Linked DNA regions of Homo sapiens: region 2 is linked to region 1. Evidence: fine-mapped expression QTL. A gene starts in region 1. The other region holds a variant in brackets. All regions are shown on one strand. Distances are from middle to middle. Region 1 holds the start of FBL (fibrillarin). Region 2 has its middle 9.8 kb from the start of MIR6719.

What was found.
Region 2: its variant is fine-mapped to the expression of FBL in sun-exposed skin (GTEx, PIP 0.96).

The regions. Positions count from the first base shown.
Region 1 is chr19:39,843,438-39,848,811 of GRCh38, reverse strand. It overlaps FBL (fibrillarin), which reads left to right and starts at 2,433. Exons shown (of 9, transcript NM_001436.4): 1 at 2,433-2,521. The coding sequence starts at 2,512. RefSeq lists an enhancer at 2,888-3,628.
Region 2 is chr19:39,817,269-39,822,642 of GRCh38, reverse strand. No RefSeq gene overlaps it. Among named protein-coding and RNA genes, the nearest start is that of MIR6719, 9.8 kb to the left of the region's middle. The variant G/A (reference allele first, on the strand shown) is at 3,199.

The sequences.
Region 1 (5,374 bases):
TCAGGGCAGAGTCCTCCTTAGAGCAAGAAGGTCACAGGAAGGTTCAGAGGGAGTTGAGGAAATGGGGAATATTGGGAAAAGTCCTCAAGGGCTTCGCTATCCCTGCCCTGCCCTGCCTGCCAGTGTCTCCTCCATCCCCCTCCCACCTCTCTGCCTGGGCCTCCCCTATCCTGGCCCTGAGCCCCCTGCCTGGGGCTCCCCAGTCCCATTTCTGCCGGTGCTTCCCCCATTGCCCTCCTACCCCTCTGCCTGTCCCAGCCCTGACCCCTCTGGGCCAACACTGTTTGGGAACCTGTCTGTCTCTCCTATTGGACTGGCAGCTCCAGGAGGACAGGACCCGGGGCTGTTTTAGCCACCATTGTGTCCCCAGCACAAGACCAACAGGCACCTCCACCACTAATTACTTACCGATAGAGCCAATTTCAGGTCTTCAGAGCAAGCTAGCAGGCAAAGTATCTCAGAAGCAGGAGATGGTGCCAGGATTCCAAGAAATAGGGCTGGAATCCCCTAAATCTGCACTGCACTCTGAGTACTTTTGTCCTTTAGAAGAAAAATATTAATTAGAAGGCAAATAGTAAAATCCATGTGAAATAGGTAACATTATCCGGAATTGGACCCACTGGAATCATTGCACATCTAGAAATCCAGAATAGACTCAACTATTTCATCTCATAGTTTTTAAAAAGTTTTTTTTGTTTGGTTTTTGTTTTTGTTTTGGGACAGGGGTGTCGCTCTGTGACCCAGGCTGGAGTGTAGTGGTGCAGTCATGGCTCATTTCAGCCTAGACCTACTGGGCTCAAAGGATCCTCCTGCCTCAGCCTCTTGAGTAGCTGGGACTACAGGTGCAAGCAACCATACCCAGCTAATTTTTTATTTTTTGTAAAGATAAGGTCTCACTCTGTAGCCCAGGCTGGCCTTAAGCTCCTGGGCTCAAGCGATCCTCCTGCCTCGGCCTCCCAAAGTGCCTGGATTACAGGTGTGAGCCACTGCCCCGACCGGTTCTGAAAAGTTTAAGCAGATTTTCCATCATAATATCTAAACAATCTTTCAGGAATGTTTCTGTGCAAATTGGTGGCATTCCACAGCTGGAACACTGTACACAGAGAACTCACAACGGTATGAGGCCATCCATTCATTCAACAAACATTTACTGGGCACCCAGAGGGCTGTCCTAGGCCTAGAGTGATAGAGCAGTGAATGGAACAGAGTCAACATCTAGGCTCTGGACTGGTAGGTTCTTCTGGAGTTTTTCGGTAACTTCTCATAACAGCAGTTGTCTTGCTTTGCAGAATGAATATAGGGATGGATACTGATATTACACAATTACAAAGCCCAAAATTCTTAATACTTAAGCAGAATCTGTTGACCCCTGACGCCGCTCTCTGCCCCCACTCTGATCTGTCCATCCTTTTCTTCTGATTCACGGCAGCAGCCAGTCCTTGGTTTTCCTGCTTTCACCCTCACTCCTGCAGTCTGCTTCCCACATGCAGCCAGAGGGACCTGTGTCAGATCACATTCCTTCTCTGCTTGGAACCCTTCCATGGTTCCATCTTACTGCCTAAGTCCTCACTATGTCCCACAAAGCTCCGCACAATCTGCCCTTGTTAGCTACCCGCCCTTATCTCCTCTTACTCTCCACCTTGCTCACTTTGCCCCACCCACCCTCCTCATTGTCTCTCCAACTTCCCATATCTTTCCTTCCTCAGGGCCTCTGCATCTGCAGATCTTTTCCCTGCCTGGAACTCTCTTCCCCTAGATAGGTGCATGCCTCACTCCTCACTTCCTTCAGCCCTTTAGCTCAAAAGTCTCCTGATGCATTCCTTGACCACCGTGCCAAAAAAACAAAAATCATTTGCCCTCCAAAATCTCTATCCCCTTTCCCTGCTGTTATTTTCTCCAAAGCACTTATCGCTTTCAAACATTCAACATGTTTGGTGTCTATTTCCTCCATTAAAAAGATGAACTCCAGGAGAGTGGAGATTTTTATGTCTCGTACACCGCTGTATTCCCAGCTCCTAGAACAGCACCTGGTACACACGAGGTGCACTGTAAATGTTTTTCGGATGTTTGAATGGAAGCCCAGAGTCGGTCACTGTTCTTGGGGCTGGAAATGTATTGGGGAAGCCTTTTTGGGTGTACAGGGGCCAGAGGGATTTAGCTAGGAATACAAAAGAGGGCACAGCCCGTGCGAAGGCTATGAGCCCTGATTATTGGGGTGCTCGCATTGGGGAAGAGGAAACCGGAAGCGAGTTTAGGGCGACCGCTGCACAGGCAAAGGCTGGGAAGGCAGAGAGCGAGGGCAGCGGGTTGCGTGTCGACAGGCTCGAGAATCCAGGCTCACTGCGCGTGCGCCGAGCTCCGGGCGGGGAAGGGGCCCGGGGGCGGGACTACGGGGTGGCGTCACGCAGCGCACGTCGCCGCGCGCCTGCGCTCTTTTCCACGTGCGAAAGCCCCGGACTCGTGGAGTTGTGAACGCCGCGGACTCCGGAGCCGCACAAACCAGGGCTCGCCATGAAGCCAGGTCAGGCTGGGGTGAGGGTCCGGGGTCAGGGACGGAGGCCGGGCGGGAATCCGGGTGCCAGGCCAGAATCGGAGGGGTGGGGCCTTGGCCTGGGGGCAGGGGTTCTGAGCACGGGTTCCAGTCTCCTGTGGGAAGGGGGATTCTGATTCCAGCAGGTCTAGGGGTTTGTGACTGGCTTCAGAGGTCACGGTCGTGAGTCGAAGAAGGCCGTGGGCCTGGCATTGGGGGTGTTGACGTGGGGTTCGTCTCATTGAGGCCGTCTAATAGGGATTTTGGATATTGGGCAGGAGGCGGCACTCAAGGGTCTTGGGCTAGAGTTTGGATTCAGGCATCTGGAGTCTTGGATCGCTGGGCGTGTTTTGGGAATCAGGCTTGGGTCGGAGATGGAGAGTTCCTGACCTTGGGTCCTGGAGCTGTGTGTGGGAAGCCCCCATTTGCCTTCCCTGTCGCTGCCACCACCACCATCCCCTTATCCCGCATCCCAGCTTTTCCGAGTGGGCCGGAGTGGATGAGGACTCCCCGGTTGGCCGTGTGCGGCGCTCTTCGGCTCACTTTCCCGCCTTCTGCACTTACAGTGGGGCGGATCCCCGGGGATGGAGTGGAGATTTGGGGATTAAGATTTCCACCTCCGGGACGAGACTTAACAAGCTCGGCATTAGTCTGGGGTGGTGGGGCGGGTGGTTGTCACAGGAGGTAAGTAGTTTTATTCTTAAGATTTTCCACTAGATTCTGCTGAAACCACTCCCTTCATGGTGGAATGATGAGGGGGTCCTGGCTTTGACAGCAGAAGGGCCTCAGTTCAGTGTGTCAGCTCTTGCTCAGCTTCTTAGCCTGCTGTGTGAACTTGGGCAAGTGGCTTTACCTCTCTGAGCCTCTGTTTTCTCATCAATAAAATGGCGCCAGTTAGGATTAAGCGACGTTAAAAAAAATAGCACAGTGCTTGACATATAATAGTATTAGCTCTAATTGTTACCTTTATCTTTCTCAAAGAGAACAACATTAGAATCCTTCTCGGTGGTGCCTGAGCACTTCCTCCATCTGGCCTGCCCAACCCGCACTCATCTGTGTGAGAACTTGCTTCATTGAGTTTGGAGAATTTCCACCATGGCCCAAAGGGTCTGTTTTCCTAGTACAGGCTTTCTTTTTCTTTTGTGTGTGTGTTTGTGTGGAGAGATGGGGGTCACCTGGCAGGAGATTTGTGGATCTGTGCCCTTCTCCCAAGTTCCCTTTCTCTTCCGTGTTTGGGGATCTCTTGATGAAGTGGGGTGGGGGATTGTAGGCCAGGTATGCTGAGATCCTGGCTTGCCTGCAGGCATTCTGGTCTGTGATTCCCTCATAAATGGAGGATACCCGTTCTTCCAACCTTCCTCCATGTGTGGTAGAATGTGAAGTTGTAAAAGTTGTCAGGTGTTAGCTCTTTAGTAAGGATTTTAGCCTGAGTGAGAAAAGAACCCTTTGGGAGATTTTTGAGCAGGGGCGTGGTGCAGTCTGACATTTTTAAAAGGGATTCTTTTTGCTTCGATGTGTGAAAGACCTCAGGGTGGCAAAAGTGGAAGCAGGCACATTGGTGGGAAGCTTGTTGCTGTAATCTAGGAGATGGTGTGGTGGACCAGGATGGGAGCAGTGGACATGCTGACAGTTTTACATGCTTTTGAAGACAGAACCAACAGATTGTATGTGGGTGTGTGATCGGAGTCAAGGATAACCAAGGGTTTGGGGGTGTGTAACTGGAAGGATGGAATTGCCATTTTTGAGATGGAGAAGGCTGTGGAAGGAGAGCAGATTTTAAATCAGGGGGTTTATGGACCCCCCTCCCCCCAAAAAAAGAACTTACTGGAAAAGTTTGTGTGAACATGTGTTTTTTCTGAGGACTGGGTACTTTTGGTACATTTTCCCCCAAAAGCTCCAGGACCTGAAACGGATTGAGATGTTTTGAGTATCTGGGATTGAAAGTTTACACTCATGCCCACTCCGCCCCAAGCACATGCCAGTACTTCCTTTCTGTTAGGCCTGGGTTGAGACTTTCATAAGCCTAGCTGTGGCATCTCCCCTAAATGAAGGTCTTGGCTTTGGAAAACTGTTGGAGGGCTTGGGCAAGAAAATTGAGATCTGAGTTGCTGTTTCAAAAACAGCACTTATTAGTTGCTGTGTGGAAAGTGGACTGTAGGGGGAGTAGAACATTAAAAAGTGAACAACTCTTAGTTATGTTCTAGAGTTTTGAAAAGGAAACTTCATTTTAAAAGATCAAATTAGGAGTAGCTATTAAAAGTTACATTTTCATCTTTAATAGAAAGATGAAAAAAGAACTAACTGGAAAAGTTTGTGTGAACATGTGTTTTTTCTGAGGAATGGGTACTTTTGGTACATGAGGAGGGAAGAGGAGACGCGTACCCCTGAGTTTGAATGATGATGTTCAAAGTAGGTGCCAGATAGTATATATGTGATGTGCTCTGTGGGTACAAGTCATTTAATCTTTACAACCCTATAGGATGAGCACTGCATTTTTTTTATTTTTATTTTTTTGATACAGAATCTCTCTCTGTCACCCAGGCTGGAGTGCAGTGGCACCATCTCAGCTCACTGCAACCTCCGCCTGTGTTCAATTGATGCTTGTGCCTCAGCCTTTTGAGTAGCTGGGATTACAGGCATGCGCCACCACGCCCAGCTAATTTTTTGTATTTTTAGTAGAGACAGGGTTTCACTATGTTGGCCAGGCTGGTCTTGAACTCCTGGCCTCAAACTGTCCGCCTGCCTGGGTCTCCCAAAGTGCTGGGATTACAGGCATGAGCTATGGCGCGTGGCCTGGCACTGTATTGTCTCCATGTCTTACAGATGAAGTTTTCAAGACCCCTA
Region 2 (5,374 bases), 26 kb after region 1:
GCTCTTTTCTTTGCCTAAAGAACTCATCTATCAAATAGCCCAGACTTGTTCCTTCCTCTTTAGGTCTCTCCTGAGATGTCACTGCCTTCCTGAGATCTTCCCTCACCACCCTTCTAAATTTGTGACTTATAGTCACATCTATCTTTGCTTCTTTAACTTTATCCTTAGCATTAATCATATTACTGTTTAACACTCTGTAGAATTTATCTGTGTTTATGGTCTGTCTCCCCTGACCCTTACCTCTAGGAGACTGTTGACTTCATCAGGGAAGGGGCTTTTGTCTACTTCCTCCGTTATCTCCAACACATAGAAAAGTGCTTGGCACACAGTTAGGGCTCAGTAACTACTTATCAAATAAACTATTGAAGAGCACATATCTGGATCCCAGCATGGCGGGGACTCTGCCGATCCCCTTTCTACAGAACTCCAAGGAGCTGCCTTAAAGTTTTCTGAGGGCTCAAGATATTCAACAAGTATTTCACCTTGCCTCTTCTTTCTCCTCAGCATTGGGAACACAGAAGAGAACAAAATATTCCCCTACCCCTATAGAACCTACAGTAATAGGGACAGTAATTTAGACTATCAAATAATCACACGTGTGAAATTACCAAGAAAGGTAGAGAGTGTTATAAGAATACTTGATAGGAAATCAAATCCGGATCCTAGGAAATGAGGTTTGAGGTGATGAAGGAGTAGGCATTAACTCCTTTAAGAGATAAGAGTTTGGGATGGTTGGAGCCTAGAGGCTGATGCAGAGCAAGAGGTCAGACCTTGTGTATGCCATAAGGAGTTTGGGTGTTTACCCCACATGTAGTGGGAAGTTGTAGAATTTTAAGCTGGGGACAGGAGCGTGGTCAGGTGTTTGTGTGTGTGTGTATGTGTGTGTGTGTGTTTCCTTCTAAAATTCTTCACACTAAAGTGTACTTTAAAAGACTCCTCTGGCTTCTGTGTGGGGAATTGACTATAAGGCATTAAGGATTAAAGTAGGGAGACCAGTGACAAGGCTGTTACTGTGGAATTAAAATAGCTGTGATTGAAGACAGCCACACATTCTTTGCTGTTTTTCCTATCAAGAGGTGGAGTCTCCTTCCTTCTCCTTATATCTGAGCTGGCCCTGAGATTTGTTTTGACCAATAGAATACAATGAAAGCAGGCTGGGTGCGGTGGCTCATGCCTGTAATCCCAGCACTTTGGGAGGCTGAGGCAGGTGAATCACTTGAGGAAAGGAGTTCGAGACCAGCCTGACCAACATGGAGAAACCCTATCTCTACTAAAAATACAAAAAAAAAAAAAAAAATAGCCAGGTGTGGTGCACTCCTGTAGTCCCACCTACTCTGGAGGCTGAGGCAGGAGAATCACTTGAACCCGGGAGGTGGAGGTTGCAGTGAACCAAGATCATACCACTGCACTCCAGCCTGGGTGACAGAGTGAGACTCTTTCTCAAAAAAAAAAAAAAAAAAATACAATGAAGATGATGCTGTACTAAATGGAGGCCTAGGCTTTAAGAGACCTGGCAGATTCTGCTTCTACTCTTGGAGCCCTGCCCTTTCTATAGATCTGCCCCAGCCCGCGGCTGTTCCAACTTTTAGCTGATGTGCAGGCGTGCAAGTGATGCCATCTTGGGATGGCCTAACTCCCATTCCAGTTGACACCATGTGGAGTAGGAATGAACCATCTCAAATCCCCTGACCCTTTGAGCCTTGTCCAAATTGCAGAATCATGAGCAAAGAAATGGTTGCTATTTTATGCCCCTGTGGCTTAGGATGCTTTGTTACACAGCAATAGCTAACTGAAACAAGCTAATATTTTTTTAAGATCTTACCATTTTATGTATTAGCTCATTTAATCCTCAGTCACCGTATGTGGTACTACTACTGTTCCCATTTTACAAACGAGGAAATGAAGGCACACAGAAGCTAATAAAGTACTAGTAAAGCGCCTGGCACAAAGCACTGAATATGTGATAGCTATTATTATCAGCATCATGTTCATCAGCATTACAATTTTCACAATTGTTGAAGAAGTGGCGGTCAGATGAATAAACACATTAGTAACCCACTTCCACTTCTTTTTCTTCTTCTTCTTCTTCTTTTTTTTTGTTTTTAAACAGGGCCTGACTCTGTCACCCTGGCTGGAGTCACTGCAGCCTAGACCTCTTGGGCTCAGGTGATCCTCCTGCCTCAGTCTCCTGAGTACTTGGGACCACAAGCATGCACCACCACACCTGGCTAATTTTTGTATTTTTTGTAGAGATGGGGTTTCACCATGTTTCCTAGAGTGCTCTCGAACTCCTGGGCTCAAGTGATCCACCAACCTTGGCCTCCCAAAGTGCTGAGATTACAGGCGTGAGCCACTGCGTCCAGCCAACCCACTTCTTAGTGATGTGATTTTAGCCATTTTCTTGGAAGGACTAGTAGAGAGATGGAAAGACATCGAGTCTTTGGTGATGTTGTTGAAGTGCTGGATCAGGCCTCACTTGGAGTGAGTTACCTCTAGACTTTCTCATTAGGGAATTCAACATATCTCTATCGTTTAAGCCAACTATATTGTTGAATTGAGTTTTCTATTACTTAGAATCAACAATATCCTAACTGATTCCAGGGTTTTCTTATTTGTTGAGTCATCAGATCTGGCTATTTACTACATGCCAAGCATTTTTAGGTGCTGGTATTATTAATAGTAGCAAACAAGACCCCCGAAAGCCCTGTCCTCCTGGAGCCTGCATTCCAGTGGGCAAGATGAATGCTAATATTAGTGAACAGAGCTGTAGAAGTTGAGGGTTGGAAGACTAGAGAGTGGGAAGAGGTGCTATTTTAGATAGAGGGGTTAAAGAAGACCTCTTTGAGAAAAACGTTAATGGACCTCACAGAAAGGGAGGACACCAGCTGGCTGTATGTATATTCTGGGAAGAAGGACATTCCAGGTAGAAAAAACCAGCAAATTCAAAGGCCCCGAGGCATGCTTGGTGTGCTGGAGGAGCAGAAAGGAGTGAACTGGACCTGACTGGACACAGTGGGAGGGAAGGAGACCAAGGCAAGGTCAGGTGGGACCGGGAGGCCATGGGAAGGACTTGAATTTGAAGCTGATGAGATGTGTGGCAGGGAGAGCATGGTGAGCTGAGGCGATGTGATCTACCACGGTAAGAGGGTTCCTCTGGCTCCCATGTGGCTACTAGGGTGGAAGCAGGATGCCAGTGAG[G/A]AGGCCACTGTGCAGTCCAGCTGAGATGATAGTGGCTTGGCCAGGGTGCTAACGGGGCGGTGGGGAGATGTGGTCAGATTTTGCATATAATTTGAAGGGAGAATCAGGTATGTAGGGTAAGAAAGAAGAGTCAAGGACCACACTATGGCGTTTAGTCTGCACAGAGGAAGGAGGGAGTGCCATTAACTGTATGGACAAGACTGAGAGAGAGTGTGGGCGTGTTTAGCCTCTGACTGGACCCACTGGCCAAACAGGAGCTTATACAAGACTGGCATTGAAGGGTGAGATCTGGGCTGGGAGTAGTTGGCATATTTATGGTATTAAAGCCCAGGATGGGATCACTAAGGGAGGGTGTATAGATGGAAGTGTGGGCTGAGAATGAGAGCAGGGAGGCCCGTGAGGAGGTTGCTGCAATAATCTAGGTGAGATGACAGTGGCCTGTACCAGGGCAGGGGCAGAATGAGTAGTCATTGGAGTCTGGGTGCATTTTGAAGGCAGAACTCACTGTGATTGGTTGTGGGTAGTGATGGAAAGAACCTGACAAGGGCTTCATGAGAACAGAATAGAAGCAGAAGTGAGACAGTGGTGTGACATTCCTCCTTTCCACTGGGCCCTGTGGTCTCTGCTTCTCTTTGCATTGGCTGCTTCCTGTTCTCAGGCAGCTGGGTTGGTCCTGGGTGGACTCTTGCCCCCACTCTATGTGATCTTCCAGCTCAGTTACCCGCAGCCCCTCAGTCTTCATTCCGAATTTCCCAGATAGGAATGGGATTTCCAGGGTCGGGTATCCAACCCTGCTCAACTCACTGGAGCTGGAGGGTTCCTATAGTGATGACTGTCTGCTCAGAAGGGCTGTGGACTGGGCAGGCCCCCCAAACATTCACAGTCACCATGTGTTTCTGACACTTGGTGTACAGGGCGGACATGTGGGTGGGCAGGTGTGGCAGGGGTTGGAGATGATTTGACCCTCTTTTGGCTGATGGGTGAGACAGACCATTTATATTGCCTCAGATGTGTCCTGGATTGAGCAAACAGGAAAGGGGATACCAGGAAGGTGGATCTGGCAGGCCTTGGGCTGTGAAGCGTTAAGGGTCAGTTGGGAGGATTCAGGCGCAGCTTCTGCCTGTTCATGGGTATTCCCAGAGGAGTCAGGGAGACACGCATTACTCTCAACTCAAGAGAGACACAGCAATGGCTGAGACACAGCAATGGCTGAGACAGCCTCCACCTTGCCCTCGCAAAGCTCACAGTCCAGTGGGGAAGACAACCCCAACGGCAGACAGTGACCAGGGCTGGGATGGGGAGGCAGAGGGGTTGGGGCCAGGATAGGGGAGCCACAGGGGGACTGTGGGAGCCAGAGGCAGCTCCTGACCCAGTCTGTGGTGTCAGGTGGGACTTCCTGGCGTGGGGAGCATGTAAGATGAGATCTGAAGGATGAGTCAAACAAAGCGTGCTTTGGAACTCCGCGGGGGACCACCTCGAGCCATATTGCAGAGGAGACTTAAAGTTTTGTGAACGTTTTAAAATTTAATAATTTTAGATTTACAGACAAGTTGCAAAGATGATACAGGGACTTCCCTATACCTACACCCAACTTCCACCTAGTGTTAGCATCTTACATAATTATTGTATATTTGTCAAAACTGAGAAATTAACATGGATTAATATTCTGTTAAACTCCAGACTTGAATCCTATTTCTCCTGTTTTTCCATTAATGTCCTTTTTCTGTTCCAGGATCCAATCCAGGATACCATGTTGCATTTGTTGGTCATTTCTCGTTGGCCTCCTCCAATCTGTGACAATTTCTCAGTCCTTCCTTGTTTTTCATGACCTTGACAGTTCTGAGGAGTACTGGTGAGATGTTTTTGTAGAATGGCCCTCAGTCTGAGGTTGTCTGACATTTTGCTCGTGGTTAGACTGGGATTTTAGGCTTTGGGAAGAATGCTCACTGAGGTGAGGTTAACCTGATCACTTCATGAAAGTGGTGTCTGCAGATTTCCCAACGATAATACCACTATTTTCCCTTTACTCATTTGTTAGAAGCAAGTCACTAAATCCAGCCCACACTCAGAGGAGAGCTAAGCCTGATTCCTGGAGGGAAATAGGGAGATACTTGGAGGCTGCACAAATATCCCATTTCTCCTTCAAGTTTACCCACACATTTTAGCATTCATCAGT